Regions from separate parts of the Homo sapiens genome. Here regions 1, 2, 3 and 4 are each linked to region 5. The links come from fine-mapping of genetic effects on gene expression. A gene starts in region 5. Each other region holds a variant in brackets. All regions are shown on one strand. Distances are between the middles of the regions.

Region 1 (5,127 bases), 51 kb after region 5:
GCTTACGGGATGTGGGGGGCGGTCCTCCCTATCACAGGAGGGCTTACGGGATGTGGGGGGTGGTCCTCCCCGTCACACGCGGGCTTACGGGACGTGGGGGGCACAGGGGCAGATCCACTTCATCCCCATGGTGCTCCATCCTCATCCACCCTGGGGCTCTGGGTTTACGCAAAGGGTGGATGTTCCCCTCTTCCTCTGGGGAGGCCTGGGGCCCTCAGATGGCCCAGCCAGCCTTTGTGCCAGGCCAGCATGTGTGGGAGCTTAATATACGCACGCTGATAATTGGATTTCAGAGATGGCAAATCAGATGAGGCTCATGTGCTCCTCAGAAGAACAATGGAGGAGGGGCCCTGCTTCCACAGAGATGGAGAGAAAATATTCAGGGTGTTCCATGGAAGTCGTTAGCAGCAGAAAATACTCCCACTTGAGACAGTGGGGGATGGGGAACAGTGACTTGGTGGGGGAGGTTTTGAGCAGTTAATAAAAAGGACAATTTAAAGAGATCACCTTCCTTGCACCCAGCAGCTTTGCCAGGCATGAAGTGCAGGGGAGGACGTGGCATCACAGCAGAAGATGAGTTCCTGCCCCGTTACTAAGAAACATGCCCTCCCTTCCCCTGTGAGATTACTCGTGGGCAGGGCTTGTCCCTAGGGGGGCCCTGTCATTCAGTGGTTAACCCCGTGGTCCCAGGGTTTACTCTGTGGTTCCTGGGGGTTTATTCCATGGTTCCTGGCGGTTTACTCCATGTTCCTGGGGGTTTACTTTGTGGTCCTGGGGGGTTTACTCCATGGTTCCTGGGGTGTTTACTCCGTGGTTCCTGGGAGTTTACTCCATGGTTCCAGGGGTATTTATTCCGTGGTTCCTGGGTGGTTACTCTGTGATTCCTGAGGGTTTAACTCTGTGGTTACTGGGGGTTTACTTCGTGGCTCCTAGGGGTTTGTTCTGTGGTTCCTGGGGGTTTACTCCGTGGTTCTTTGGGGTTTAACTCTGTGGTTTCTGGCGGTGTAACTCTGTGGTTCCTGGGGGGGGGGTTACTCCATGTTTCCTGGGGGTTTACTCCGTGGTTCCTGGGGGTTTACTCCTTGGTTCTTGGGGATTTATGCTGTGGTTCCTGGGGGTTTGCTCCATGGTTCCTGGGGGTTTACTCTGTGGTTCTTGGGGATTTATGCTGTGGTTTCTGGGGGTTTACCTCTGTGGTTCCTGGGGAGATTACTCTGGTTCCTGGGGCTTTACTCCATGGTTCCTCGGGGTTTACTCTGTGGTTTTTGGGGGGAGGTTATGCTGTGTTTCCTGGGGGTTTACTCTGTGGTTCCTGGGGGTTTACTCCATGGTTCCCGGGGGCTTAACTCTGTGGTTCCTGGGGGGAGGGGTTACTCTGTGGTTCCTGGGAGTTTACTCTGTGGTTCCTGGATGTTTACTCCATGGTCCTGGGGGTTTACTCCATGGTTCTTGGGGATTTATGCTGTGGTTCCTGGGGGTTTACTCTGTGGTTCCTGGGGGTTTAACTCTGGTTCCTGGGGGTTTACTCTGTGGTTCCTGGGGGTTTACTCCATGGTTCCCGGGGGTTTAACTCTGTGGTTCCTGGGGGGAGGGGTTACTCTGTGGTTCCTGGGAGTTTACTCTGTGGTTCCTGGATGTTTACTCCATGGTTCTTGGGGATTTATGCTGTGGTTCCTGGGGGTTTACTCTGTGGTTCCTGGGGGTTTAACTCTGGTTCCTGGGGGTTTACTCTGTGGTTCCTGGGGGTTTACTCCATGGTTCCCGGGGGTTTAACTCTGTGGTTCCTGGGGGGAGGGGTTACTCTGTGGTTCCTGGGGGGAGGGGTTTACTCCGTGGTTCCTGAGAGTTTACTCCATGGTTCCTGGGGGTTTACTCCGTGGTTCCTGAGTTTTACTCCGTGGTTCCTGGGGGTTTACTCCGTGGTTCCTGAGTTTTACTCCATGGTTCACTCGGTGGTTCCTAGGGAGTTACTCCATGGGTTCCTGGGGTTTATCTGTGGTCCTGGGGTTTACCCCTTAGTTTCCTTAACTGCTCATCTGCTGTGAAGAAGAGTGGGTGCTACAGAGTTGGAAGTTGGGAGCTCCCAGCAGACTTGAGAGAATGTTCCCTAGTGTCTCACTCTGTCGCCTGTGGCCAGAAACCTGTGTGAGTTTCGGGGGAAGAAAGAAATGAGGTTGGCAGGTGTCCCTGAACCACTGGATCCCATGAGCCTGGGCTGTCAACCTCAACATTGCAGTCCCTCTGAGGAAGGGCCCCATTCTCAGCCTTACCTACACCTGTGCAGAAATTCTGCTGTCAGGATCCAGAGGTCCTGCTAGCTCCCAGGGCGTCTGCAGTGCAGAGCTCTCCAGGGAGAGGCTCAGACAGGCAGCTGGCTTCTCTGGGGATGCTGAACACGCAGGCTCAGACAGGCAGCTGGCTTCTCATGGGACCCTGCAGGCTGGGGCAAGAGGAGCACAGAGCACATCTGGTAGCTTGGAGTTTGAAAAACTCTTCCTGTGTTATTTCTTAGAAGGAGTTTGTTTGCTTTATTTATTTAAAATTTGATTAGAAGTTCCCCCTAGAATTTAAGGGGAAAAAAAGAAAAGAATTAAGATGTGTGTTAGCAGTTGGAGAAAAACTAGAATGTATCAATTTAAAATCTGTGCCGTTCTTCGCTTTTCTGGTCTCAGAATTACTTGGGTGGGTCTATGTGTGTTAGTCAGGGCTCTCTAGGGAAGCAGAGCCTATGGGAGAATACAGGTACCTACATATGAAGAGAGAGATCAATCCATCGATTCTGAATGACTGGCTGATGACTGTGGGCTTCAGGTGCACAACCACAGGGAGGGGGCAGGCTGGAGACCAGGGAGGGTGACGCTGCCCCGGGAGTGCCTAGGCCACTGGGGCAGAGTCCACTTCTCCTGGGGACCACAGCCTCTTTCCTTAA[C/T]GCCTTCAGTGGAGAGGAGGGGCCGTCCGTGTCCAGGGGCTGAGGCACTGTACGCAAGGGTGTCAATCACACCTGAAGATGCCTCCACGGCAACACCCAGATGCGTGTGTGAGCCGCTGAGTCAGCCACGGTGACACTGAACCAGCCACACGCTGCTGGACGTGTGGACGTGTGGGGTTCATACGTGGGGCCTTTCCCAAATATGAAGAGTTGGGTGAGCCCAGGGGCCCCAGGCCTGGTGGACCCTAACTGTTGGTTTTGGAGTCAGGTCAGAGGCTCGCTGGCTGTGAGGAAGTGGGATGTGGTCTGAGGACACCCTTCCTGGGGCGTCCACCCCCTGCCCCATGCAGCTGTGGAGGCCAAGGTTGTGCCAGTGAGGCCCCGGCCACCCTCTCCTGTTCTGCCCCGGGCTGGGGCTGCTCCTTCTGGTGGCCCTGGGTCTGTGGGGTGGGGGCCCGTGAGAGTGGTCCTGGGTCTGTGGGGTGGGGGCCAGTGAGAGAGGTCCTGGATCTGTGGGGGGGGCCGGTGAGAGAGGTCCTGGGTCTGTGGGGTGGGGGCCCGTGACAGTGGTCCTGGGTCTGTGGGGGCCCGTGAGAGTGGGCCTGGGCCTGTGGGGGGGCCGGTGAGAGTGGTCCTGGGTCTGTGGGGTGGGGGCCGGTGAGAGAGGTCCTGGGTCTGCGGTGGGGGAGGGGGACGTAAGAGTGGCCCTGGGTCTCCGGGGGAGGGGAGGGGCGTGAGAGTGGCCCTGGGTCTGTGGGAGCCCGTGTGAATAGCCCTGGGTCTGTGGGGGGCCCGTGTGAATAGCCCTGGGTCTGCGGGGGGCCCTGTGTGAGTGGCCCTAGGTCTGAGGGGGCCTGTGTGAATAGCCCTGGGTCTGCGGGGGGCCCATGTGAATGGCCCTGAGTCTGCGGGTGGCCCTGGGTTGGCGGGGTGGGTGGGGAGCGTGTGAGTGGCCCTGGTATATGTCAGGCTTCCCTGTGGTCCGGCACGGGGTGGTCTCACCTGCTAACCCAGGGCCCTCTCTGTTTATTGCAGCCCTGCAGCCGCTTCCCAGTTGCGCCCTCCTCTGCCCTGGCTTCGTCTGAGGACCTGCAGCCCCCTTCTCCAAGCAGCTCTGGCTCTGGGCTTCCCGGCCAGGCTCCACCGTGCTACGCACCCACCTACTTTCCCCCGGGGGAGAAGCCACCCCCCTACGCACCCTGATAGAGGCGTGGAGTAAAAGATAACTTGTTTGTTTTTTTTTTTAAAAAAAAGGCAGCCTCTAGAAATCCCGCTTCTGTGGCCAACCTCCTAGAGAACCCGGGAGAATGTTCCAGAAGTCTGTCCCCTCCTTTCCTCCCTGGGCACACTGGTGAGGGAGGCTGGAACCAGGCAGGGAGTGGGGCCCTCCAGACCCAGGCTGGTGACACCTTGGCTTGGGCTCTGCTCACATCAAATGGCGCTGAAAGTTCCCACCCGGCCTCCTCCTCTGAGAGCAATTGTTCTGGTGTTTTCACATCCCTTAATTAATTAGCTATTATTATGATTTTGCAAAGACAGTGCAGCCCCGGCCTCCCTGCCTGTGTGTTCTTGTTTGTGGACATGTGTTGTGCGTTACACGTTCGTGTGTGCATCTGTGTCCTGGAGAAGCGCAGGGCAGAAGCCACCCGCCCCTCGTGCTGTGCTCCTGACGTATGCCAGGAAGGGAAGGACGCTTCGGCTCCAACGCCCAGCGCTGTGTCTAACCGCCTGTGAGTTGTTAGAATCCAGGGGCCCGGTTGTCTTTCCCAGCCCCGGATGCAAATCTGCCTGGGCCACTGGCACGAGGGTCTTCCCCTGAGCTGTCTCCCAGCTACGGCGCCTGGGCTTCCGCTGTCCTTCCGCGGCTTCTCCCTCACCGCACCTTGTCTCAGGACCCCTGGCCGCTGGGATGGTGGGGGACGGTGTTTCGGGGTCCTTTGGCTCAGGGTCTGGGGCCGCAGCACTCCCTGTGGAAACCAGCTTAGCTCCCCGCGGGCCCAGCATGCACCTGCCGGGCACACCTGGGGAGACGGGTGAGCACGCCTGGGAAGCAGCAGGTCCCGGGTGGGTCACAGGCCCCGGGTGGGTCACAGGACAGGTCTCAGGTGGGTCACAGGTCCTGAGTGGGTCACAGGTCCCGGGTGGGTCACAGGCATCCCGGGTGGGTCACAGGTCCCGAGTGGGTCACAGGCCCCGGG
Region 2 (5,127 bases), 34 kb after region 5:
AGGGCCAGCACATCCTGGCAGAGTCTCTGCTGCACGCATTTACGGTGAGAGACCCAGCAGAGCCTGGATGAGTCACCTGCCACCCACTTCTGAAAGTGGCCGGGGCATCTAGCGGGTGGCACCTGCCGGCCGCCGAGCCGGACAGGGACGCTGGATCCTCCTGGGATGGCTTCGGCTCCCACTAGGCAGATGTGGGCTTCCTAACGTTGGGCAGCCCCAACGAATCTGGGGGACCACACTGGTCACACACCCCTCAGGGATCTGTGGGAGCGACGTCGTGTGGACAGATGTCCCCTTGGGGACACCAGTGGCTCTGAGGGTGGTGACTCAACCAGGAGCAGGGAAGGGGTGCTTGTGCTCCTGAGCTGAGGCGCTGTCTGAGCGAAAGATGTTTAGAGCCCCAAGTCCTTAGAGCCGCACCTGCAAAATGCAAATTGTGATGATGATGTCACAGTTGTGCGGATTAGAAGGATGGGTCGAGCGAAAGAACTTTGGAAGCTTTAAAGTGATTTTCTTCATCTTTAAGTCTTTTTTCCTTCTGCCTCTTTGGTTGGGAATTGTGCCCAACAGAAACTGTGGGAGTTCTTAAGGAGCGTGTGCAGTGGTGACGGGACCACGGCCCCTCTGCGTGCTTGCATCTAATGCTGGAAGCATGTCTGCAGGCATGATGGGATGTGACGCCGCTCTCCCTGCAATGCTAGAGCGAGGCACGCAGCCCCCTGATCCAGGCCGGCACCCACGAGAAGGGTGCACTGCGGGACAGGAACATCCCCCGGAACTGCGGGAGGCCCCAGAGCTGGGGACGCGGCCCCGCTGGAGGCCGGCTTTCATCTTCCTCTGGGAAGGTGGAGGGGCTTGGCCCCGACTGGGAAACCTCAAATGTTGCCCTCTGAGCCGTCTGTGTGTGTTTTTATGTATTTGTTCAAACAATTACATTTTTAATGTATTTTACGTATTTATACCTAACTGAATGTAGGAAATTTCAGTTAGGTGTAATTTCTGCCCGCTGTTTTTACACAGCTCTGCATAATAGTCATTTTACTTTTATGCAGCAGTTTCATCAGGAAAATAGGAAGGTGAAGGAAGTCTCTTGCCTTCGGCCACACAACCTTGGCATTGACGACCTTCTGACCGTAACATGGTGGCTGCAGCTCACCCCTAGCCCTGCACATCGTGGCCTCTGCCCCACCTCAGTGGGCCCCAGTCCCACCGACGTGCAGCCCCCAGCACCTTCCCTGTCTCCCCTTGAGGAAATTCTGTTTATTCTTCCAGGACTCGTTCAGGCCTTCCTTCTTTCTCAGGGTGCAATGAGGCCTTCCTTGTGTGTGCACCCAGAGCCCTGGCTTATGCTTTGCTATGGTGGCCGTCAGACGGGGTCAGCTGTTCAAGAGGGAACCTCCCTCATCTGTCTGTTCCTCCAGCACACTGGGCAGCTACACCATGCGATGGGCTCCGTCATTATTTAGTCAGTCGAACCAGAGCAATTAGGCAGAAGAGGAGATTTTTAAATTGCCACAGCCTGTAGAAAGTCCAAATAGAAGTAAGCTTTTGGTTCAGACCCAGGCTAATGCAGCCATGGTTTTCTGCACAGCTTTCTTCTGGGAGCATCTCAACTTTCTTTTAGGCAATCGATGATAAAATGCCAGAAACGTGAGACGCGGGAAGGGCGGGGAGGTGCCTGTTTTGCTCATGTCTGCGCCTGCAGCACCAGGCTGCGTATCCCGTGGGGACGCTGGAGCGTCCGTGACACTCATGAATAAGTCAGTGAACCCAGCACCTCCCTTTCCAGAGGGGGAACCAAGGACCACTAGGGGCAAGTCCAGCCCAGCAGTTCAGAGAACGCTCTGGAAGGACTCAGCTTGCCAGCTCTGCTCTGCTCTGCCTGGGGAGGTGGAGGGGGGATGCGAGGGTAAGGGCTCCGGTCCAAGGCCACCCCGAGAACCCTTGTGCTGCCCTTGGGTCTGGTGGCCACGTCCCCCTCTGCCCCCTCGCACAGCCACTGGGAGACAGAGCTCAGGGGTGTCGGCCAGCTTCCTGCTAACTGCCCGGACTTTGTTCAGACCTACCTCTTCTCGTAAACCTAAAGTATGTATTTTGGAAGGGCACGTGCTTGATGTCTGAGCTCTCAGAATGTCTCGTCTGATCTGCTGTGGAGGAAAGTTGCCTTAGAAGAAGGTGCCAGCAGGTGGGAGAACCATCTCTCTGTAACTCACGCAGGGACCGTGCCGGTCTGGGACCCACCTGAGAAGAAAGGTGCCAGCAGGTGGGAGAACCATCTCTCTGTGACTCACGCAGGGACCGTGCCGGTCTGGGACCCACCCAAGGACGCACTGACTTCTGTGGACTCGCTCTCCGGCCCGCTGCCCCAGCCCT[A/G]CCGCCTCATCACTCACATTTAATGCAAGGTGGCATCGGTGACTGCCAAGCGTGGGCTCACCAGGAAGCCCCCAGTTGACAGCTCTTCCTCTGCTGAAGGATAAAAACACCCAGACTCGCAGTGAGGGTGCCCACTGTTTAAAAAAGAAGCTGCACTTTCCTCCGCAAAAGGGCTTGGCCAGCAGCGTGGTGCGCCCTGGACCGGCTCTGATGGGGCTTCCAGGGAGGACCCCCAGCGGGCCTGTGGTGTGGAGGGTCAGAAGGAGAGGGAGGGGCAGGCGGCCACCACTGGTCCATGGCCTGAAAGGTTTGGGCCCGCCAGCCCCCACCCCCCGCCTTCTGCTGCTGTGGGGCCTGATGGGAATGCGTCCCACCTGCGAATCCAGCGGGTAGCGTTAGAGCCTTGGCAGATGGGCTGGATTTGGCTTCTCTTTGGGTTGCGGGTGACGATAGGTGTGCAGCCTGGGGCAGAGATGGACACACAGGGCCATGCTGACATCGGGGGAAGAGGCCACAGCAGTTCCACGTGAGGGTCACGGTCGATGGAACTCCTCTCTCCACATACTTGGCTCCCCAGGGAGAAGGAAGGTCGGGGTGCCTCTGCCGGGCGTCTTTGCAAGTGTGAGGAGGAGACCACTCTGCTCGGTCGGCTCTGCTCTGAGTCTGGACGAGCACCCACGCTCGTGCCTGGTGCGCAGGACAGGTCCGAACAGACTCAGGCTTCCCCTGTCCCTGTGTAGCACCATGTGCCCGAGCCACAGGCCCTCCCTCTGCTGTTACCGATGGGTTCTGCTTGTCACTGGGACCTCTTTCCCGAGCCGACAACTCATCCATCGGGACGGAACCAAGCGAGATGCCAACTCGGGGCCACAGTTTTCAGCGGCCATTCAGGAGGGTCTGCTCTGCCCAGCGTGGTACCAAGCCAGGCACCGAGAAAAGAATGACAGCACCCGCCCTCTGGTCAGGGGTCCACGGGGATGGAGACTCCCTGCTAGTTTTTAGGGTTAGGGCAGGACACCCCGCTTTATAGCAGAGTTTGTAGTGGCAAGAAATTGCCAACTGTTTAACTATCCATCAGAGTGCACTGGTTAACTAACGCACTATAAACCATTCCTGGCTCCAAGCTCCAAGACCATTAGGTAGGAAAAGCAGGTTGTGCGACAGTGTGTGAAGCTGATCCGATGACTGTAAAGGCCTGTGTCAAGCATGCACATGTGTGTGCGTGTGATGAGCACACATTAGGGTTGGGCACACGCCCTGCCGTCTGGGGTTGCTTCTCAGAGGCGCGTGCCGAGGGCCCGGGGATGGCAACGCCCTTCCGTGCAGAAGGCGCCTGGGTGGGTCTTGCGGAATAGACGCGTGAGGACGACCCGCAGGGTGGAGTCCGGCCTGGCCAGGGCTGGAAGTCATAGGACGAAAGGTAGAGGTGAGAAGAGGCAGTTCTGTGAAAGAAGCCCCGACCTCGAGCTGGGACTTTGAATTGGTTTGCGTTTGAAAACCGGGGTTGGTAAAAGCTGGGCACCCACACCTCTCCTTCTGTTGCAGCTGGTGGCAGCGATCGTGTTTATCAGTTTTGGCGTGGTGGCCGCCTTCTGCTGCGCCATCGTGGACGGCGTATTTGCAGCACAGCACATTGTGAGTACATTGTCATTGTGTGCACAGTCGCTTTCCGGGGCTGAAAGAGTCGACGTGAAAAAAGTACAATTTCATTTTGCAGATCTCAGCTCAGACGGCTTCACCGTCAGTCTCCACGCTGGGGGTTGCCAGTGACTGTCTCTCCTCTCAGTAAGTCTCATTTCCTACACAACGAACTTCCCTCTCCACACAGACTACACACACCACACAACACACAGAGCACACAGCACACACCACAACAGAGCACAGAGCACACACACCACAACAGAGCACACAGCACACAACACACAGAGCACACAGCACACACACAACACAGCACACACCACACAACACACAGAGCACACAGCACACACACCACAACAGAGCACACAGCACACACCACACACCACACAACACACAGAGCACACAGCACACACACAACAGAGCACACAGCACACAACACACAGAGCACACAGCACACACACCAAAACAGAGCACATAGCACACACCACACAACACACAGAGCACACAGCACACACACAACAGAGCACACAGCACACACACAACAGAGCACACAGCACACACACCAAAACAGAGCACATAGCACACACCACACAACACACAGAGCACACAGCACACACACCATAAGAGTACACAGCACACAACACACAGAGCACACAGCACACACACAACACAGCACACAGCACACACCACACAACACACAGAGCACACAGCACATACACAACAGAGCACACAGCACACACACAACAGAGCACACAGCACACAACACACAGAGCACACAGCACACACACCATAACAGAGCACACAGCACACAACACACAGAGCACACAGCACACACACAACAGAGCACACAGCACACACCACACAACACACAGAGCACACAGCACACAACACACAGAGCACACAGCACACACACAACAGAGCACATAGCACACACCACACAACACACAGAGCACACAGCACACAACACACAGAGCACACAGCACACACACAACAGAGCACATAGCACACACCACAGAGTACACACCTCACACACCACACAGAGCACACGCCTCACACACCACACAGAGTACACACCTCACACACCACACAGAGCACATACCACACAGAGTACACACC
Region 3 (5,127 bases), 150 kb after region 5:
AAACAATAGCACTCAGCTGTCTGCCTCTCTGGCAGGAGGACGGACATTCGCAGCTTTGGACTCATTTTCTTCCAAATATGAACACTTTCAAAGACAGGGATCTGCCAATGACTTTACCAGGAGGGCCTTGCCGGAGCTGTCACTGCTGTGGCATGCAAGAAAGCAAGAGTCCTCCAGGAAGCCGGCCAAGAGGCGCCTTCTCTTAGGCCAAACATGGGCAACATGAGAATAAGAATACACAAAATCAGGAGAACTAACAGGAGGCTGTGAGGAACTCACCCCAAATAATGAGGAAGCTGGAGAATAAGACCAGCCTGGTCCAACTAATGGCTGCTCCGTTGGAGGCACAGGAGTGCAGAGGCAGCGAGGCCTGCAGAAGACCCCTCGCTGCGCTGGGCGGCAACTCCAGTGAAAAGCTGCTAATCAAACACAACTGAATTCACACTATTTTAAAAATAAGTCTGTAAAGGCAAAACAGGTTAATAGTATTTTGACACTAAGCTTGTAGTTATAACAGATACTTTAAAAGGTCAATCCCAGTTACCACGGTGACTGCAGCTCAGGCACCGCAGAAGTGCGTGAGGATGAGAGTGAGGGAGCCGCAGCCTGGAAGGGTGGGTCCCAAAGTCTCACTGGCTGATAGGGTTTGGCTGTGTCCCCACCCAAATCTCACCTTGAATTGTAGGTTCCATAATCCCCACGTGTTGTGGGAGGGACCTGGTGGGAGGTAATTGAATTATAGGGGCGGGTTTCTCCCGTGCTGTTGTTGTGATAGTGAATAAGTCTCACACAATCCGATGGTTTTATAAAGGGCAGTTCCCCTGCATACACTCTGTCACCTGCCGCCCTGTAAGATGTGTCTTTGCTCCTCCTTTGCCTTCCACCATGATTGTGAGGCCTCCCCAGCCATGTGGAACTGTGAGTCCATTAAACCTCTTTTTCTTTATAAATTACCCAGTCTCGTTTAGGTCTTTCTTAGCAGTGTGAGAATGGACTAATACACTGGCAAATACCAGGGACAACTGTGGTGGTTGTTGTAACAAGAAGGATGACAGTCTCTGCCTACTGAGCACACAGTGTGCCGGATGCTGCAGCGCATGTGGGCAGAGAGGCCTCACTCTGTCTCACAGCGACCCCATGAGGCAGGTGTCACTGCCTCAAGCTACAAATAAAGAAACCGAGGCTTGAGAAGAATCAGTGACCTGTAGGAGATCACGCAGTTAATAAGCAATCAGGGCCGTGTTTGCAACCCAGACAGAACTTTCAAGCCCTTATCAGCAACATGGAAATAAATAACTCAAAGGTTAATTCCAGAAAGTTTCCTTACTCAAAGCGCATCTTGGCATTGATTTCACAGGCAGCAAGCCTCATCCCAAGCAATGCTAAAAGGTTTCATCACCCCAGCCCCATCCCCAGGCATCTGCTTGTCAGGCTTTAAGGTGATAAAGAAAGAGGAAGGATCATAAAAACACCCACGAAGAAATACAAGGGGGCTATCTAACTATTTTGGAATTAATCCCCTAGACTTTTGGAATGAGGATACATTGAGGAAAAGGTTATGGCAAGTTTGAGTCTGTCACCAACCTGCATCCGAGCCCCAGCAGGCCCTTCAGGTAACAAATCAAAGGCCTGTGTCCTGGTTCTTGCCCCTGCAGTCCTGGCCAACACTTTCTCTTAAGCGGCACCCACTGACCGGCTGCCTGGCAGCCTCCTCACCTTCCCTCTTCACTTGCTACATCTGATCCTTCAACAAGGCAGGAGTCCTGCGTCTACAGGCTTCTCCAGGAGCGATCTCTCTGTCAGGCTAATTAAACGGCAGCTACTCCCCAGGACAGTCCTGGAATCCTTGCTGAATCGTGGAAGCTCCAGGCAACCACAATACCCAGAATCTTTCCGTCACAGTTTAAGCCAGAGGTAGGGTCCCAGCAGGGGCCACTCGACCTTGCAGGAAAGCTCCCACATCCTACCCACGGGATGTTCTGGACCCCACTTCTGTTGTTGAGGTGAGGCTTTATTTTACTTCAAAAGTGTAGTACTTAGAAAAAAGTCAAGATAGTTGTATCTAGGAAGTAAAGATTCGTTTAATAAATTATTCAAAACTTCAGTATATCCTATTGCAATAATACTGAAACCAACTAAGAGAAAGGATGACGATACCCATCAAAGGGAAGTTAAGACCATCTTCTTAAGTAAATCAGAACCGGTGCCTGCACAGAATGAGCTGCTAAAAGAGATTTAAAAGCAATGAAAACACACAGATACGACCTGCCGTGTTCGTAATGTGCAGCCCAAGTGCGATTTCATATGACAGTTTCCCAAATTGCACCCTTCTGTGTGCAGATTTCAAAGTTTTGCCATATCCATGTGCTCTGAATTATTGTCTACCTAGGGCATCTTCAATAGACTCATTAAATACATTTAAATGTAAAATATGTTTACATTTAAATACATTTAAATACATCTGTGTGAGATTGAAGGTCCATTGTGCTGCCTGGTTTTTTCTACAGCACACTAAAATAAATTAGTAACTATTTTAAAAAATATCCATCCAGGTACCACCTAGAGCCCTGTCATATCCCCTCTGATCATCACCCACTGGCACTGGGTGTGACACCTTCCCCATGGGAACATGGCAGGACAACCCAGGAGGAGTCAGAGGACAGTGGGGGTCAGAACAGAGTGGGCAGCGCTGTGCGCAGTCCCCCGCCGGACGGCAGTGTCCTGAAATGTCAGCATGCTGGCATTTTATCCTACTCCTTTTATTAGGGAGCCTGAAATTTAAAAACATAGGCAGGCCC[T/C]GCTTATCAACACGGGTAATTTCCTATCTCGAGTGCATTCTCACTGAAGCAGGCCTTCCTATGATGTGTCCTAGGGAGATGGGCGTCACAGTTTGGGTTAACACTGAAAAACGTAAGGACAGTATAAAGATTTGAGTAGTAACCAAGATGGCACTCTTTAAACTTCAAACAATGTTTTTACAATTAATTTTTTTCTAATTATAAAAGTAATCCGTGTAGATTGCAGACCATTTGAAAAATACAGGAAAACACAAAGAAGGAAATAAAATTTATGCAGAGATAACCACTACTATGAAGTGGGCACTGAGTTCCATTAGGAAAAATTCCTAGGGGAGGAATTAGGGAATCAAATATTGAGTTTTCCTGTCAAGGGTGGTGCCAAGCTCTTCTGGTTGGCCACACATAGCCGACATGCCAGGCCAGCCTGCACCCTCCATCCCTCCACACACATCCAGAGCCGGGGGCCCAGGTGGCCTCTCCCACAGCTAAGGCTCAGCAGAGCCAAGGGTGGCTGCCAGGCCCGCTGGTGCCCTCTGCATGCATCTCTGCCTCTTGGGAATGGGCCAGGACTGCAGAGTGGGAGAGCGCTCAGGAAGGCTTGGTGGAGACAAACTGGCAAAGTGTTTTTAATGCTGCAAAACCAAATATATGCAAGAAAGCTGTAAAAATTGGAGGAAGATGACATTCAAAGGGATTCTGCCCTCAGATCACCATGACAGCATCTTTAATTCTTGCCTTAATTTAAGGAAATAAAGCGTAAAACCATGAGTGATGAATTATAAGATTTTTAAAATTTCTTTTCTTTTTGCCAGGAAAAAACAAATTCAAAGAGCAGACCTCACAGAGATGTTCTCACAAGAATCAAATCAATTCAGACTCATATATTTTAAGTTAAAAGGAAGCATTTGAGATGTATATGTATCATTGTCAATTTCCTGCTTTACCTGATTTTTTCACTTATTTGAAAATATTTCAACAAATAAAAGGGCTCCTAAGTGTTCAGCATGTTTCTGCATCTAGTCACCTGCTTTTTCATGTCCCTTAGTGGAGTTTTATATTTCTGTTTGCTTTACAAATGTGTACATGGTGGGTTTTATATTTTTATGCTCTCAGACTTACCGGTCCTCCCATCTCTGGTTTCTGCCTTTGGTATCATGCTGACATCTCTCAACTGACCCAATTTTTTCCTATAGTTCCTTACAAAATTTGTTGTTTCTTCAATATAAATTTTGTACTCATCTCTTGGCCTAACAAGTCCTGGGTATTTAAGATGCTGGGTTGTTATTTCGAACAGGCTCCCCCTCACTCTTGCTTGCGAGGTGGTTATTGCTAGCATCTGGGAATGCTATTGGATTTCTATATTGATTTTACTCACCATCATTGTAATTTCCTCTCTTAATTTTACTAACTTTGAGTCCATCCTTTGGGGTGTTTGGGAAAGTTTTTTGGCTTGAAGTTCTGACTCTGGAATCAGCCAGACCTGCGTTTGCATTCCAGGAGTAGCATCTGTAAGACGTAAGCCTTGGGCAGGTCCCGATTCTCTGCAAAATGTGTGTGGAATGAGACAGAGTGGCTGGAAAATGTATACAGGGCCTGGCACAAAGAGACGCTTGGATGTGTCATCTGCAGGTGGTGATAGTTTCTTTTTCTTTCTTTCAAATACTGCACACTTTGTTTATTTGCTGATTGCTCTTGCTGCACTGGTAGAGCTTCTAGAGGACCTGTGGCTACAGACGGTCTCCTGCTGCAGCCCTGAGCTGGAGAAGCCCCCTGTTTTTGGGCTGAGGGTGCGGGTGTTTCACGTTCAGGGTCAGGAGGCTCCTCTCAATTTGTGCATGGTGCAGACGTCCCTGTGGTCTTCTTTGATAGATTTGGGGAGCCTGAGTTGCTTCTGTGGCTGAAGAAGTTCTCAAGTCCCGGTAGGAGGAAGCCAGGGAGCCTTTCGGTGCTTCGTGGATTGGATATGCCATTAAATACCTTACAGGGACTGCGCTTGGCTGAAGTCCAGGTGGTTTCTGGGACAGCTGGGCTCAGGGCAGGGTCCTGTCGGGCTCCCTGGGTGTCAGCGGCACCTGCCCCTGCAGGTGCTGCTCTTTGAGCCTCCCCACCCCCACTTCTGCTCCCACCGGGAGGATCTGCTGGCCTGGTGGGGCCCAGGAATGCAGAAGACTTTCCTCCTCCTCCCCCACCTTTCTTCTCTCTTGGTTATCTCTAAGTCTAAAGGGTTGTGGAAATGTGTTGGGCAAAAACAGATGGGAAGCCTCCAGGGAGAGGCAGCCTGTCTTCAGCAGGGAGATTCATGGCTTTCGATGTACAGCCAGGAGGGTGA
Region 4 (5,000 bases), 100 kb before region 5:
CCTGTCCCCCGGGGACCTACGCTCGTGACGGCAGGGGTCTCTGTTCCCCCGCTGTGGGTCCTGTGGGTCTGCTCTGGGGCCCGTGGTGCACAGTGGAGATGTGGGCGGTGCGTGTCTCCCCAGTGGCTGCTGACCCACTCTGTGGCGAGTCTCAGCTCCACCAGGCGGCTCAGCCCTGCCTCCCGGGTAGGAGCCCGAGGTTGGCCAGGCTGGGCCCAGGCTCGGGAGGGCCATGCTCCCTGCACTTCCTGGGCCCCCGCTTGCACCACGGTGTTCAGGGCACGCTGCAGTGCACAGGGGAGGGGTTGGGAGGTGACTGAGAGTCCCATTCCCGCCAGCTCCTGGGGCCGGCCGGGTGCAGCTCACTCTGCCTCTCCTGCACCTGCACCCGTCCCCCAATTAGTAAGAATAACGTGTCCTATTCCTTTTGTTTTTGTCATTTCACTTGAGTTGTGTTTTCCTGGGGCCCTAAGACTTTCTTATCCCAAACGGAGGCCATGTCTACCGGCCAGGCAGTGAGACCATTCCAGAAGGTTCTCTGTGGCCCTGCAGCCAGGAGGCGGCACATGGGAGTCTCAGCATCTAGAATGGCCCAAAAGATGGGGCTTCCAAGGACCTGGCCGGCAGCCCCCAGCCCAGCCCCCGCCCTCAGCTCCTTCCCCATCCTGGCCTCCCGCTCTGCCGCCCCGCCTGGCCCAGGAGGCCCTTCTGCCCCCGGTCCCTGCCTCTCTAGGAACGGGGTATTTGTTCTACTTCAAATGCGCCCATGACTCCAGCTGGCTCTGGTGCCCTTTGAGACCGTGGAGCCTCCAGCGGGGGCTGCAGCCTTCACCAGCACTGTGGTGAGTGTGGGGGATTTGGCAGCGTGTCACGGGCATTCCCAGCACGTCTCAGCTACACACACAGGTGGGGCGGGCCTGGGGCTTTGCATTCCCACCTCGGCTCTGGGACCCCCAGAGCCGGGCACCGTGGGAATTGAGGAGGGCCTGACCTTCCCTGGGAGCCGGGGACGGCACCAGGCCAGCCAGTTCAGCCGCATCCCGACGCCCAGGGGTCGCAGGGGGAGGTGGGGGCGCACAGGTGCTTCCTCCAGACTCTCTCATAAGGGGTGAGGGCGTTTCCCGGAACGGGTGTGGCAGCCCTGATGTAGACGCAGACGCTTCCACCACCTGTGTGGCCTTGGAGGCCCAGGCATCTGCTTTCCTCCCAGGAGGGCCAGGCTGCCCGCGCCTCTGTGCAGCCACGGGGACAGGACCCTGCAGGGCAGACCTCGCACAAGGCGCAGGTGCTGCAGGCTGAGGCAGGCCTGGTTTACTCCCCACCTCCGCATCTGGACGCCAGCGGGTGTCCCGGAAAGGGGCTGGCAGCCGCGTCTCGGCAGAGCCCCTTATTCAGGTCATTGCGTGAATCTGTGTGACCAAGGAATCACCGTTGCCACCTTTCACGTTATTTTCAAAATGATTCACTTTAGAAACATACTTTTAAAATGCTGTTCTCAGACATACGGCTGACATTTGGGGCCAGTCTGTGGACGCCCTCCACCGGCGTTCTGCAGCTGGGGCTCCAGGTCAACTCAGCCTTCAGGATGCTCTGGGGACCCTCGCTTTCCCTGGGAGGCAAGTGAGGCCCTGGCCGAAGCCCGTCCACGCCATCCAGGCAGCATCGGGGTCTCACTGTCAGGGGCCCTCTGCTCCCCTCCTCCTGAGCTCACCTGGAGGCTGCGTCCTCAGAGCGGCCCCCTCCATGCACCCAGCCGGCCCGCCCCCCGCACGTACCCCACCGGGACAGGGTGCGGCCCAGCATCTGCCCCGTGTCCGGGTTCCAGCAGTAACGCTGGAACTCCTCCATGCGCTGGCCACACGTCTTCTTCTCCTGCAGAGCCGCCATCGTCCCTGGCCTGAGATCCTCCCGTCTGCTCCCTGCACCCTCTACGCCCAGACTGAGGCCAGATGCCCACCTCTGGGCTTTATAGTTTCCTCTGCCAGAGGTCAAAGGCATCGCAGGCGAAGGATCCCAGGGAGAGGCCAGGGCCGTTTATCAGCGCCGGCCATCGCCTCACCAAACACCAGGGGCTGGGTGCAGCCCGGCTGTTGCCCCTGGGGCGGGCCAGGCCCGCTTTCCTCACCCTGCTGCTCTTGGGACGCCCTTGGCTGCAGCTTTGTCTGCTCTGATTGCGGTGAGGGCACGTTCCGGGGTGAGCAGCACTCACAGGCCCTTCCCCTTCCCTCCTCTCCTTCAGGAGGGAGATTGAGGTCAGAGCAGAGCCGGCCTGGACCCACTGTGTCCACGACCTTGGGCTGAGCCAGCTGGGGCCGCATCCCTGGCCTGGGAGGGCGTGAGGCAGGCGAGTGAGGGGCGACCGGCTCCCTGGGCCCCCCGCTGCGGCCGCCCCGATTCTGGGTCACCCAGTGGAAGGGTGAGCCTGGCAGCTGGAGCTGGGTTGGCAGGGAACACAGGGGTCCCCGGGGACTCCTCTGCCTCCCAGATTCACCCAGAGCAGCAATAGCCTCTTAGATCCCCAGAGGGCAGTGGCACCGAGGGCCCTTTAGGATTTTTTTGTGTCCATGGAGGAATTCATAAACACAAACCCCTAAATCTAGTGGTCCTCAAAATGAAGTGCACAGGAGCCCTGAGCATCTGTTGAATGCAGATTCAGCCCAGCGAGTCCTGTGGGGGCCCCAGACTGCATTTCTAACAGTGCTGGTGGGAGGGAGTAAGGCAGGGTCCAGGTGGGGGATGCTCAGCCTGGGCAGTACCTCGGGGTCACCGGGGGTCCGGGCAGTGCACTGGGGTCACAGGGCCGGGGCAGGGACCATGAAGTCATCACTGCCCACTTCCGCCCGGAGATTCTGCCTGAGCCTCTCGCCCATGGGTCCGAGCACCAGGACGTGGAGGGCTCCCAGGCAGTCTTGTTGGGCGGCGCACTTCAGAACCCCGGCTCAGA[C/G]GCTTTGCTGTTGGAGACAGGGGTCCTGGATGGCAGATGCCATTGCTGCCTGCTGGCTGCAGTGCCCATCTCTGCAGGAGGTTGATGGGAATGCAGGGCAAATGAAATGTGCTCAGGGGCCTTCTGACAAATATGATTCGAAGTCGACTAGCCCTGTGTGTCCAGAATTACATGCAGAGTTTCCCATACTGTCAACTCTAGGCCGTCCCTCTCAGGGACCCGTGTAACCAAATTCATTTCTTAGAAGAAACAAAATTCCTCTAGGCATTACGCTGCTTTAATTTTTTAGGATAATTTAGAGTTTGCAAAATAATTGCCCTAAAATTCAAATGGAATGATGTCATTTTAGCCTGGATTCCTATCATTTCTTTTCTTTTTTTTAATTTCTAATTTTTATTTCTTTTATTTTTTTGTAGAGATGGGGTCTCCCTATGTTGCCCAGACTGGTTTAGAACTCCTGAGTTCAAGGGATCCTCCCACCTCGGCCTCCCAAAGTGTTAGGATTACAAGCGTGAGCCCCTGCGCCCAGCCATAATTTCTTAATGGACCTATCCTTCCTTTAACATTGTACCCATTTCTGACTTTGGAATGTTAGGGCGATAAGAACACAGGGTCTGGCAGTAAAGGCCACAGTCTGATTGTTCACAGACTGTGGCCCTGGGACCCCAGAGTGCCAGGGGTCTGACAACACCTGGATGCAGCAACTGTTGTCTGTGAAGGGTATAGATGCTCTTGAAATGAACAAAGTATGAATTATTTCTAAACATCTTTGAATTTAGTCTTCCTAATGTAGTCTCTGAATTTCCAGAAGCAGGTACATGTGCTGAGCTGTACACATGTTATCAGAATGACCTTCTTCTGGACACATACGTGTGGGGAGGAGGGCCAGAGACCTTGGTAGAGGGCAGTTTCCCCACAGCATGCTCTGAAAACATAGAACTAGGTGCTCTATACAAATTGGGTGCCAGACAATGAGGGGGGCCCAGAATCCCACCCACATCTGGCAGCCACCGGTCACCCCTCTCTCCCCCCATCTGAGTGGTGTCAGACACAACGTAGTAGAAAGTTAGGACTGTGACCACCACACAGTGACAAGGCCACCTCCCACTGTGGTGTCAGTGGAGACCATATGGAAAGCCAGGACTGCTACCCACCCACCCAACAGTCCTCAGGAGCCCACCCAAAGGTTCCCAGTGGGAAACCTAGACTTCTGGCCCCACATGGTGTTAACAAGGTGAAGCCTCTCCCTTTTGCTGCTGAAGTGGGGTCAGAGAAAGCCAGTAAAAAGAGAAGGATTAAATAATATGAAAACGTCTGGGTTTCAGTAGATAACCACTCATCACACAAAGAACGAGGACGATTTTAAGATGAATTAATACAAAGCTGGGTGTTTTGGCTCATGCCTGTTATCCCAGAGCTTTGGGAGGCTGGACTGAGAGGATCGTTTTAGACCAGGAGTTCCAGACCAGCCTGGGCATCTCTGCTAAAAAATTAAAAAATTCTAAAAATGAATTTAAAAAGACAATATATGCCAACACCAAGGTGACAGAGATGTTAGGATTAGCTGCCAAAAATTTTAAAGCAGCCATGATAAAAATGCTTGAATAGCAATTACAAACAAGCCTGAAACAAATGAAAAACTAGAAAGCTGCAAAATATGGAAAGCAAACTGATAGAACTAAAAGTAGACATAAACACATCCACAATTATAGTTGGAGATCTCAACACTCCTCTCTTAACAATTGATAGAACAACCAAATAGAAAATTAGCATGGATACGGAAGAACTCAACATCATCAACCAACAGGATGTCATTGACATTCGCAGAATACTCAACAGAGAATACACATTCTCTTTAAGTCCCCATGAAATATATATCAAGATAAGCTGTATCTTGGGCCATAAAGGAAGTCTTAGCAAATTTAAAGAATTCAAATCATACAGAGTATGTTCTCCAATCACAATGGAATCAAATTAGATATTAATAACAAAGATAACAGAAAAACCTCCAAATATGAAACCTGAACAACATACTTCTAATACTCATGAGTCAAAA
Region 5 (5,127 bases):
CTATTTTGTTTCTTTACCTCTCTTTCCTTTTTCTGTGGCCTGCATTACCTGGCTGTGTATGTATGTATGTGTGTATGTGTGTGTATGTATAAGTGTGTATGTGTGTGTATGTGCATGTGTGTGCATGTATGTGTGCATGTGTATGTGTGTGCATGTGTGTATGCATGCATGTGTGTATGTATATGTGCATATGTGCATGTATGCACGTATAAGTGTGTATGTATGCATGTGTGTATGTATGTGTATGTATGTGTGCGTGTATGTATGCACACATGTATGCATGTGTGTATGTGCATGTATGTATGCGTGCATGTATGTATGCACACATGCATGCATGTGTGTATGTATGCATGTGTATATATGCATGTGTGTGTATGTGTGTATGTGCATGCATGTGTGTATGTCTGCATGTGTGTATGTGTATATGTGTGTGTGTATTCCATAGCATGTTGCCCTCTGACATGCTGTGCATTTTTCTTGTTTATTGTATTATTATTCATGGCCTCACTTCCCCACCAGGATCCTTGTTTACGTTGCTCATTGATACATCCCAAGTACCTGGAACAGTGTCTGGTATATCGCGGATGTTTAGTAAGTCTTGAGAGGCTCACTGAGTGAACAGTGTTAATTTTCATGGTTTAAAACTTTATATAAATGGTACCATACTCGCTGCCGTACTTGCTGTCGTACTCGCTGCCGTACTGTGCACTTGCATTTTTGCTCCGCGTTCTGTTTTTGGCATTTATCCACATTGATCCATGTAGCTCTCATTTATTTTAACTGCCATGTGGTATTTCGCTGTATATGCCCATTTCTTTATCGCTTCTCCCCGTGTTGGATATTCAGGGTGTGTCCGGTGCTTTGGACACACAGTGTTGTGAGGAATATTCTGTACGCATCTTCTAGCACATGCATACTTCTTGTGGTAGTTTCTCTCTCACAGTGGATGGCCTATTAGAATGACTAGGGAATTCTTAGCTATTAGTTTGTTCCCAGAAGTTCTGGTTCAATTGATCTGGTCTGGGTTCAGTGCTGCAGAAATGTTTTTTCTTTTAAAGACATTCCTGGATGACTTTAACGACAGCCGGGGTTGAGAACCACGGCTCCTGGCTCGAAGGAGCAGATCTATGTTTGTGTTCTTGGGCATATCTAGAAAGAGATATGCTTTCTTTCTGGCTTGTCATCTACTTGCTTCAATTTTCCTAAAGGTTGCTTTCAAAGTGGTGGCACCATGCGTGATCCCAGCGGTGAATGCAGATTCCCACGTTTTCATTAACATTCTTTAAGTTGTTTGACCCTTGGGGTTTTCTGATAGGATGAGGGTGAAACGCATCCTCTTGTTCCCACAGCGTTCCCCTAATTCCGGGGGCTGAGTTTATTGATCGTTCAAGCATCTTCTTTTGTGACGGGACCGCTGATGTCCTTGACTCAAAGATGTTAAAAATACGTTTAGAAGGATCTTTATTTTTTCCTGCTGCTGTACGAGGCACCCTTTCTGGCCCCGTGTTTCCTTGCCCTTCTTTCCAGCAGCAGATTTTACTCAGAACAACTTCAGTGCTGTGGACACAAAGACGCAGGCCTTGGAGAGGCGGGTCAGCCCTGCCTCGGGGCTGCTGAGTGAGGTGCCAGATGCGTTTGTTCCTCATTTACTCATTTGCGTTTGTTCCTCATTTACTCGTTCCTCGCAGACTGGGTTGTAACACCATGTACCACCCTCTGAACCCAGAGATCAAGGGCTGGCTGGCCCTGTAGCCCCAAGGAGCTCCGTCACCGGCCAATGGGGAGGCGAACCCGTGGTGACCCACTCAGCGGCACCGCCAAGGGCTGAGCGTGGCGCCAGCGGCGGAAGGCCCGGGGTCACCGTCCCAGGCCGGGGCTCCGACCCCGAGTCCGCAGGGTCCTCTCCAGGCACCTTCCATCTGGGGTCTGGCTTCCACTCCCGGCCGCGGCGTCCTGATTTCCAGAAACCAGGCGGCCGCTGGAGGGGAGAAGGGGGAGCGGGCGCAGCGGGGGAGGGAGGAGAAGAAACGCCGGAGAAGGGAGAGTAGAGCGAGGAAGGACGCGAGGCGGGCGGAGCGCGGGGAGGTGCAGGGGGCGGGGAAGGGGCGGCGCCGCGAGGGCGGCTCCTGGCGGCGGGACTGTGGCTGTGGCCCCGGGAGAGCCGGGTGGGGCCTCGGGATGCAGCCGCCGGTGCCCGGGCCCCTGGGCCTGCTGGACCCCGCAGGTGAGCGCGGGGCTGGGGGCTCGTCTCGGCTCCTGCGGGGGAGCGTGGGGACCCCGGGGCTGGGACTACAGGTCCCCGGCCGGCCCGGGCGGAACCTGCGCGGAGACGCGGCACGGGGTCTGGTCCCTCCGCCTCCTTCGAGCTCTGTCTTTGGAACACTTTGCATTTCGCACTGGGGTCGGGCGTTCGTCCTACCGGTTCGTTCATTCATTCTCTCTCCCTGTCTCTCTCTCTGTCTCTGTCTCTGTCTCTCTCGCTCTTTCTGTCTCTGCCTCCTCAGTCTTTGCCTTTCTCTGACTCTGTGTCCGTTCCTCTTGGCCTCTCTCTCCCTGTTACGTTTTATTATGAGGAACAGGCGCCCCAAAGTGCGCTCCTTCCCCATCTCTTCCGTTTATTCCAACCTACACCATTTTCCGGGAAAACTTCGTTTGGAAGAGCGAGGTAGCCTTTTCCTGTTTGAACGTGCAGAGGCGCTCACAGAACTGGACAGTGTTGCTTGGTTTCGGCTCGCCCCTCTCTCGTGTTTCTCCCCGGTGTGTTCACGGAATCTCCAATTCTTCCACTTCCCAGACCAAGCCCGCTGCAGCCTCGGAGCCAGGCAAAGGCTGGGAAAACAGGAAACCTGTTGCGTGTTCACCAGTTCGCAAGCCGGGCTCGGGGGCTCTGCCGGGAAGTGGCCAGGACTGGAAGGATGCCGGGTGTCTTCCTGAGGGGGAGAGGGCTGGGCAGATTTCAGAACAAAAGAGAAACAGAGTTCCCTAGAAAGTGAAGCCCTGACGGCTGGAGGGAGGGATGGAGTGGTGTCTAGGGGGCTCTGCCGCTCCCTCAGAAATAATCCAACACAAACTTCTGGGGATTAACCTCACAACCCTTTTACTGCGGCATCGTTCGGAACCGGACGAATTACTGTTACTTAAAATAATCAAATAATTTGGCTTCTTTCTAAAAGAAACCACTATATGCCTTCCAATCTAAAGCAAAATGCTCTATGGTCAAATGTATTAATGTGGATTAGTCTATTGGTGTTTAATAATGATAACTATTATTATTATTTATTAACTAGTTTTATCATTATTAGAATGCCTTAATGTTTAAAAATAGCATCTGACTTAGATTTTCTTCTGACAAAGAACTTTAAACCTTAAAACAATACTTGGAGCTGGTCTTTTTAGTATATGAAACATTGGTGTATCTGGGTAGGATTATGGGTCTTTTTGTTTGGAGCTGGTCTTTTACTAAAATGTATAAAGCATTGGTGTGTCTGGGGTTGGATTATGGTCTTTCTGCTTTGGTGTGTCGGGGTGGATTATGGTCTTTCTGCTTTGGGGTATCTGGGGGTGGGTTATGGTCTTTCTGCTTTGGGGTATCTGGGGGTGGATTATGGTCTTTCTGCTTTGGGGTATCTGGGGGTGGATTATGGTCTTTCTGCTTTGGTGTGTCTGGGGGTGGATTATGGTCTTTCTGCTTTGGGGTATCGGGGGTGGGTTATGGTCTTTCTGCTTTGGGGTATCTGGGGGTGGATTATGGTCTTTCTGCTTTGGTGTGCCTGGGGGTGGATTATGGTCTTTCTGCTTTGGTGTGTCTGGGGGTGGGTTATGGTCTTTCTGCTTTGGTGTGTCTGGAGGTAGATTGTGGGTTTTTCTGCTTTGGGGTATCTGGGGGTGGACCATAGTCTTTCTGCTTTGGGGTACCTGGGGGTAGGATTATGGGTTTTTCTGCTTTGCCCTTCTTTGTTCACTACCCTGGGCATGTGTAAAATCAGGACGAAAGAGGAATTGACGGCTGAGTGATTACAGTTTTACCTGGGATTGTTACTTGGACACCATGACTGGTGTCCCCACATGATTAAATGGAACTCACTCTTCTTTTTGGGCGTTCCAGGTCCGGCTGGCAGGAAGGCCGGATCTTAGAACCCTTCCAAGCAGTGCCACCTCCCATGCTTTGTGACATTCCCCTTCCTGGCTCTGTGGAGTAGAGGAAATGGGTCTGAGGGGCAGGAAGAACCTGACCTCCAGCCTCGCGTGTCTTCCAGGTAGGACCTGGCGTGGGCACAGGCTCATGTGGTTCAGCTCCTCCAGCTAAGGCTGGGGAAGGAGCCAGGAAGGGGAGAGCAGGTGGGATGGGAGAAGTGGGGGCTGGTGGGGAGTGACAAGGTGATATTCTGAGATATCCTAGATGGGCTGCACCTGGGGAAGACTAGAATTAGAAAAATCAGCGCACTTGATAGCAGAGAGGTAGCTGTTGGCCCCTTCAGCTTCACATCTCAGAACTCCTCCTTGCAACTCCAGTGGGAGAAATGCTGGTTAAGAATAGCCGCTACGCCGTCTTAAAGTTCACACCACCCTGATGATTAGCATATGCATTCCATTTACAAAAACCTATATGAGAGCCCACGTATCGTGTCTCACTGGACGCTTATCACAATCTCAAGAGGTGGGTGAGCAGGTGGTTCTCATGATTTCCATCCTACAGGTCAGGAGACTGAAGTGCCTTCATTCATTCCGTACCAGGAGATGTGTCTATGTCCTCATCTGAGCCCCGGGAACCGGCGACAAACAAGAGACAGAGCTCTTGGCTCTCATAGGGTTCTCTTCTCCCAGGCTCAGGGAGATTAAATGGCCGCCCAAGACCACACAATGGGTCTGGACAGACCCAGAATGGTTTGGGTCCAGTCCCTGTAAGCTGCCTCTGCAATAGAAACCTATTGGTAGATATTTTAATTAATAGTTGGGGCACTTAGGAGCACTTTAATTTTCACAGTGCGTGTAATAACAGTATTTCCGGGACAGGAAAAAAAAAAAAATCAAGGAAATTATTCAGGTGATTTTAATTATCTTTCTCCTAAGTGAAAGCCCCTTTCTCTTGAAAATCTGACCTTATAATTATCTCTTATGCTAATTATA

Direction of the effects. Positions count from the first base shown, and alleles are read on the strand shown. Sizes are in standard deviations (SD) of each study's normalised expression. Not every link is listed here.
For the expression in minor salivary gland of the gene that starts at base 2,135 in region 5, A is the high allele of the variant in region 2 and G is the other (small effect, 0.30 SD a copy in GTEx).
For the expression in prefrontal cortex of the gene that starts at base 2,135 in region 5, allele G in region 4 goes with a higher level than allele C (moderate effect, 0.41 SD a copy in ROSMAP).

The links. PIP is the estimated chance that this variant, and not a neighbour inherited with it, causes the effect.
Region 1: its variant is the best candidate, but not a certain one, in a credible set for the expression of TMEM255B in fibroblasts (GTEx, PIP 0.59).
Region 2: its variant is the best candidate, but not a certain one, in a credible set for the expression of TMEM255B in minor salivary gland (GTEx, PIP 0.76).
Region 3: its variant is the best candidate, but not a certain one, in a credible set for the expression of TMEM255B in fibroblasts (GTEx, PIP 0.67).
Region 4: its variant is the best candidate, but not a certain one, in a credible set for the expression of TMEM255B in prefrontal cortex (ROSMAP, PIP 0.62).

The regions. Positions count from the first base shown.
Region 1 is chr13:113,807,772-113,812,898 of GRCh38, forward strand. It overlaps TMEM255B (transmembrane protein 255B), which reads left to right. Exons shown (of 9, transcript NM_182614.4): 9 at 3,965-5,127. The coding sequence ends at 4,132. Among named protein-coding and RNA genes, the nearest start is that of GAS6-AS1, 5.3 kb to the right of the region's middle. The variant C/T (reference allele first, on the strand shown) is at 2,930.
Region 2 is chr13:113,791,230-113,796,356 of GRCh38, forward strand. TMEM255B (transmembrane protein 255B) reads left to right here. Exons shown (of 9, transcript NM_182614.4): 4 at 3,919-4,008. Among named protein-coding and RNA genes, the nearest start is that of GAS6-AS1, 22 kb to the right of the region's middle. The variant A/G (reference allele first, on the strand shown) is at 2,374.
Region 3 is chr13:113,903,459-113,908,585 of GRCh38, forward strand. All of the region lies in intron 3 of LINC00452 (long intergenic non-protein coding RNA 452), which reads left to right. Among named protein-coding and RNA genes, the nearest start is that of LINC00452, 11 kb to the left of the region's middle. The variant T/C (reference allele first, on the strand shown) is at 2,799.
Region 4 is chr13:113,656,258-113,661,257 of GRCh38, forward strand. It overlaps ATP4B (ATPase H+/K+ transporting subunit beta), which reads right to left and starts at 1,941. Exons shown (of 7, transcript NM_000705.4): 1 at 1,776-1,941. The coding sequence starts at 1,887. It also overlaps a transcript of GRK1 not described here. RefSeq lists an enhancer at 1,260-1,760. The variant C/G (reference allele first, on the strand shown) is at 2,945.
Region 5 is chr13:113,757,092-113,762,218 of GRCh38, forward strand. It overlaps TMEM255B (transmembrane protein 255B), which reads left to right and starts at 2,135. Exons shown (of 9, transcript NM_182614.4): 1 at 2,135-2,224. The coding sequence starts at 2,179. RefSeq lists enhancers at 1,295-1,796, 2,353-2,854.